Regions from separate parts of the Homo sapiens genome. Here region 1 is linked to region 2. Evidence: fine-mapped expression QTL. Tissue or cell type: whole blood. Region 2 holds a variant in brackets; the other region holds the start of a gene. All regions are shown on one strand. Distances are from middle to middle.

Region 1 (2,630 bases), 110 kb before region 2:
ATCTTATGTTATCAAATCTGTTCATGGAACACACAGTTAATTTCTGAATTTCAGATAAACAAGGATTTTTTTTGTAGTGTTAAGTAGGTTCTGTATTTGCTAAATATGGCAACCCTATTCTGATAACAAATTAAAGGATGCCCACCCTAAAAGTGAAATCTGCTGGCACTCATGATTTAGACAGTACATATCCCACGGAGGGTATGTTTTAAAAAACAGGCATGATGAAGTAAAAGGAGAACTGGTTGCTAGAATATCTGGGTCCTACTCCTGGGAAGCAGCTGTAAAGAGCGCTGTCAGATTGCGTTTGAATGCCAGCTTTGCCATTTGCCGAGTTTCTGAGCATTTTAGTCAACCACCTACCACTCCTACTCAGTTTCCCTACTTGGGAAGTCAGAGCAACACTCATTTAAGGAAGAGGATGTGTGGATGAAATGAGCTACTAAATAAGTCTTTATATAATAGTTTTCTTTTCCTCAGCTTTTCAGGTCACTGATTCCAAGACTTTGGGCCTGTTTCTCGCCTGTAGAATGAGGGAACTTCACTTTAATACTGGGGTTAAATAACTCGTTACTACGGGACCCAAAGCGGACAACCAAGGCATGTTTTACAGAGAAGCGATCACAACGAGGAAACGAGGTTTGCAAAAATAAGTAATTTCAGAAGAGAAGGAAACCAGCAGATTAGTTTTGTCTGCGTCCGTCACGTCTGAGTAAACTAAGAAATCTGAAGGTAGATGTGGGAGTGGTGTTTATAATTTCCCTTACGTAAGCACGGCTAGAACGGAGGCGACGGGCACTGGAATTTAGAACTCAGCATTTGAAAACACTTTGTTTCCGTGCCATAAAAGAGCGCCAAAATGGGGCTACAACGGCTAAAGAATTTCCAAAAAGTTCCTTGTGCAAAATAAAGGAGTCGGGGGCGCAGTGATCGGAGGCTTTCCGTCCTTTTTCATCCCCCGTTATCCAGGCGGGGTCCCTCCCTCCAGCTACGGACTTGGGAGCCCATGATTGCGAACCCGCACACCTTTTCCAGCCTCCCTACGAAGCAGACAGGCTTGTCGATGAATTGAGCTAGCATGCCGGCGTTGATGCGCGACCTGGGCAAGTCCATCATGTCCACCATGATTATGGTCCAAGACTGCGGCTGGCGGGAAACCCACGGACGACTGAAACTGTGCGCCCCGCGGGTGTCTATGGGGCAGATTTCTCGGCACCAATCAGCGAAGACTAGCGCTCCAGCTTCGCCAATTAAATGCGCGGAAACCTAAATCGCAATCGCGCTGTCTCTGAAAGGGGTGGAGAAGGGGCTGGATGAGTCCGGAAGTGGAGATTGGCTGCTTAGTGACGCGCGGCGTCCCGGAAGTTGACAGATACAGGGCGAGAGGCAGTGGAGGCGGGACTTGGATAGGGGCGGAACCTGAGACTACCTTTCTGCGATCACAGGATTCCCGGCGGTGACTTGACCCCGGAAGTGGGGTGTGAAGCTCCGGTGCTGGTGCGGCGGGGGACTGCGGGGCCAGCCTCAGGTACCTCGTCTCGCGGGAGGCGCCGCAACCTTACTGTTTCCCCATTCTTCCCGCGAACAGAGTCAAAAGAGCTAGGCGGGAGTCGGCACTAGCTGCTGCCGCGGTGCTGTGGGTGCTGCGTACCAGCTGTTCACTGCTGTCTCGCCTTCCCTCTTGCCAGTTCTGCGTGGGAGGCGCGGGAGTTTTGCGGAATGATACGTGGTGTGGCGTCGGGGTTGTGATACCCGCCCCCTTGGAGATGGGCAGCGGGGTCATCAGTGATCTTGATCACTTTCTTCAGGCTTTTGCCACTTGTTGGCTGAGGGTCGATTTACTCCCTTAGCTGCGTCACTCTACTTTCTCCACTTTCTCCACCTGTAAGAAGAGAGATTGATCCGATTACTTCTAAGACGTTTTTTAGCCCAACCTGGCCACACTGCGGAGGCGCCGGTTCTTTCACCCCGCTAACCCCTCCGTGTTGGCAGCCAATAGAAGCACTTAAGGATGGGTAACGGGGAAGAACCACTGGCCAGTACTAGGGGAGACAAGCTTAAATCGTTGTTAGACCCCGAGCTAGGGTTCCCCGAGCTAGGGTTCTCCCTTCTGAGGCGTGTTTTCCCCATCTGCAAAACGAAGGGTTAGGCGGAATGATTTGCAAGGTCCCAGTTGACTCTGACTTTTGGCCATATGTTTGACTCAACAGTTTAAACCCCCTCAGCAGTCTTTCTGTCGTTGCCCTCCACACTGCGAGACTCTGGAGGGCGATCTGGAGGTCTGGAAGATAACCGATTCCTGGGAGATTTGGGGGTAGTCTCCAATCTGTCCCTGGCTCATCTTGTGACCCGAAGCCGGCGGCCTTGCCAGGAGTATTCTAGAATGAGTGCACATAAAAATACCTTCAAACGGTACGGTGGAAATTGGACAGAAGTTTTAATTGGGTATTATAACGTTGTGGAAACTGAGTCTGTGAATTGGCCCAAAGCTACAGAATTGTCATCGTTCAAATTCCCTTAAGCAAAAAAGATCCGATTTGAGACTTCACGTGGCAATTTAAGATTGGAATCTCATGTACGATAATTAAATGATAGTCTCCCTTAGTGTTTCCTTAGCACTTAATAGGTTT
Region 2 (2,767 bases):
TCAAACACAACTTGAGAATGCCTTATTATTGGCTTTGACACAGTTTACACATACAATCCTGTTTCTTATTGCTATCTTCTGGTATTAAGGCCCTATAGATTTAAGAGATTTTAAAAAAATGTTTATATTTCTTTTAAGTGGAGTGCATGTTTGTGTGTGTGTGTGTGTGTGTGTGTGTGTGTGTCTGTGTGTATGTGTGTGAACTGTTATTGGAAGTTATTGCCATGTTTATTTTAGGCACTTCATATATCTAATTAGAAATGATGTTTATTGTTAAGTAGGCAAAGTTGCCTTCGAGTGCATGGTGAGAAATAGTAATGAGATACTTTAGCCATTAGGCCATGAAGACTTTTACCTAAATAATAGGGAAGGAATAAATCCTAGTATTGTTTTGGAGTTGCTACAGGAGAACAGAAATTGTTTAAACGAGAGAGTTTCAAAAGGCCCCACTACAGTTAAGTATATTTAATTTAATTAGGTAATCAGTATTATTCTTGCAACTATTAATGGCACCTCATTTGTTTAACACTTGCTATATCATAGAGCATTTCATACGTGCTACTTTATTTGGTCCTTTCAGAAATCCCTAGAACAAGGCAGGGCAAATGTTTCCATCTTGGTTCATGGATGAGGAAAACCAAGACTCAAAGATATGCAGTGACTTGGTCAAGGTCACAGAGTAGTAGAGGATGGCTCTCTTTCCATTACAGTGACAGTCAGAAAGCGTCAAATCTTAGGTTATCATGACACTTAGTAATTATGAAGTATATTTTTTCCAAGAAATAATAAGCCTTTTAGGCAATTGAAACTGCCGAGAAGGCTGCCAGAGGAGTAACTCAAAACAGAACAAACATGGAGGTTTTTGGTCCTTTCATCTCTAGCATTGAGTCCACTAGGTCAGGGTTTCAGGAAATGGGAAATCTTCATTGTTACCTGCTAGGTTGCCTTATTTCTCCATTTAATGGAAAACTTAGTCTTCATTATTTTCAGTTTAACAAATAATTTTCCTTAGAGGAAAAGAAAGTTTTGCCTGTATTTTGGGGAAAATGTATAGAAATTAAATCTAAATCATTGAATTATTAGATGATGTGCCATTTCTGAGCCAAAAAAGTAGGAAAACAATGCATAATCATCTAATAAAGTATATGTTTTATGATTATATATGTTTCTTGTTTTGTTTTGTTTACAGTGGCGTGATCTCGGCTCACTGCAACCTCCGCCTCCTGGGTTCAAACGATTCTCCTGCCTCAGCCTCCTGAGTAGCTGGGACTACAGGGGCCTGCCACCACGCCCAGCTAATTTTTTTTTTTTTTGTATTTTCAGTAGAGACGGGGTTTCACCATGTTGGCCAGGATGGTCTTGATCTCTTGACATCATGATCCGCCCGCCTCGGCCTCCCAAAGTCCTGGGATTACAGGC[G/A]TGAGCCACCGTGCCCGGCCTATATGTTTTATTTTATAAAGTTATATGTTTTATTATTTACTTTTTGTTATGTAATTGTTTATGTCATAAAATTATAATATAATAATTCCTTAAACCAAATTATATTCCATAAATTATAACATATGAATTCAATATGCATTTATAAAATAAAGATTTCTAGACATATGGTAGACTAACAGTGATATTTTGAAATCTACTTCTGCCACAGAACTAGATAACCATTTCCAGATTGGAATATAAATTAATCAATGTCTCATTGTTAGAGCTGCTGTAATTTTTTGAGGGGATCAAGTGAGGAAGGACTTATTTTTGGCTTAGATTTACATTTACAGCAAGGTTATCAACATTTTCCTGTGGTGGCACATTAATATTAATAATATAATCATAATGCCGATTTACACATTTACCAAATTCCCATCTATTACCTTCATTCCTGTTAAAATACAACCTATCATGTTGTTCTTTGGGGATGAGTAGTACATTTATAGACATATAAGTATATGTGTATATTTATATATTTGTATATATAAAAATTTAAAAAATTCTTTTATTTTTAGGAGCAAAAATTTGGGGAAAATAATGTAATATTTATCAGAAGGATACTTTAGGATTTAGCTCTATCAGCCAGGCAGGGTCATCAGTAAATCTAAGAACTGCCAAACTTCTCACACTCCTAATTCCCTCTTTTATCCCTCCTTTTCTGGCTGTGCTAGAGATATCCTATTACACATGATTTTCTTTTACTCTGGGCTCTTCTTCGCCCAGATCAGTGTGATTGCTTTGCATTGATTTCTGTATTTGCTTAAAAAAAATTTCCCTTGATAATGTTTTTAAACTTTCTAGCATGAGCCTTTCCATACTTGGTATTGGTGTTTTATAATAGATTTGAGGACAGGTTTGTGGGGGATTCCATAACAAATTCAATTTATCAGTTACTTCTTTTTAATGTTAAAATAACTGCAACAATTCCACAATAAATAGAGTGAAATTTGATGTGCTAAATTAATTTAAATGGTTTTGACACATTTTCCTTGAAGGACTCTTTTCTAGGTTTTTATAATCTCACCTCAGTGAGAGTACAGTATGGTTTAATTACTTTCCAGCAGTGCACACTTTAATAGCCCGTATTCCACGTGAAAGCTATGTGTCTTCTGTGGGTTTGAACTGTTTCTGCCTAATCCAAGGAAAAATATTTGAGGAACATTAGTTAATGCCTTTTCCAGGAATGGGAGTGGGTAAGCGTTTTTTTCATGGCTTATAGAATATTTAGCAATTTTAGCTTCCAGTACTTAATTTTATAGTGTTCTCAGTACTGGTGGCAAAGGCT

Evidence for each region. PIP is the estimated chance that this variant, and not a neighbour inherited with it, causes the effect.
Region 1: it holds the start of UMAD1, and the variant in region 2 is fine-mapped to the expression of UMAD1 in whole blood (TOPMed, PIP 0.93).

What each region holds. Positions count from the first base shown.
Region 1 is chr7:7,639,294-7,641,923 of GRCh38, forward strand. UMAD1 (UBAP1-MVB12-associated (UMA) domain containing 1) reads left to right here and starts at 1,459. Exons shown (of 4, transcript NM_001302348.2): 1 at 1,459-1,528. It overlaps RPA3 (replication protein A3), which reads right to left. Exons shown (of 8, transcript NM_002947.5): 5 at 1,027-1,882. The coding sequence starts at 1,125. RefSeq lists enhancers at 640-689, 1,060-1,109, 1,380-1,579, 1,620-1,669, 1,750-1,919 and a silencer at 1,150-1,279.
Region 2 is chr7:7,746,805-7,749,571 of GRCh38, forward strand. All of the region lies in intron 2 of UMAD1 (UBAP1-MVB12-associated (UMA) domain containing 1), which reads left to right. Among named protein-coding and RNA genes, the nearest start is that of RPA3, 30 kb to the left of the region's middle. The variant G/A (reference allele first, on the strand shown) is at 1,420.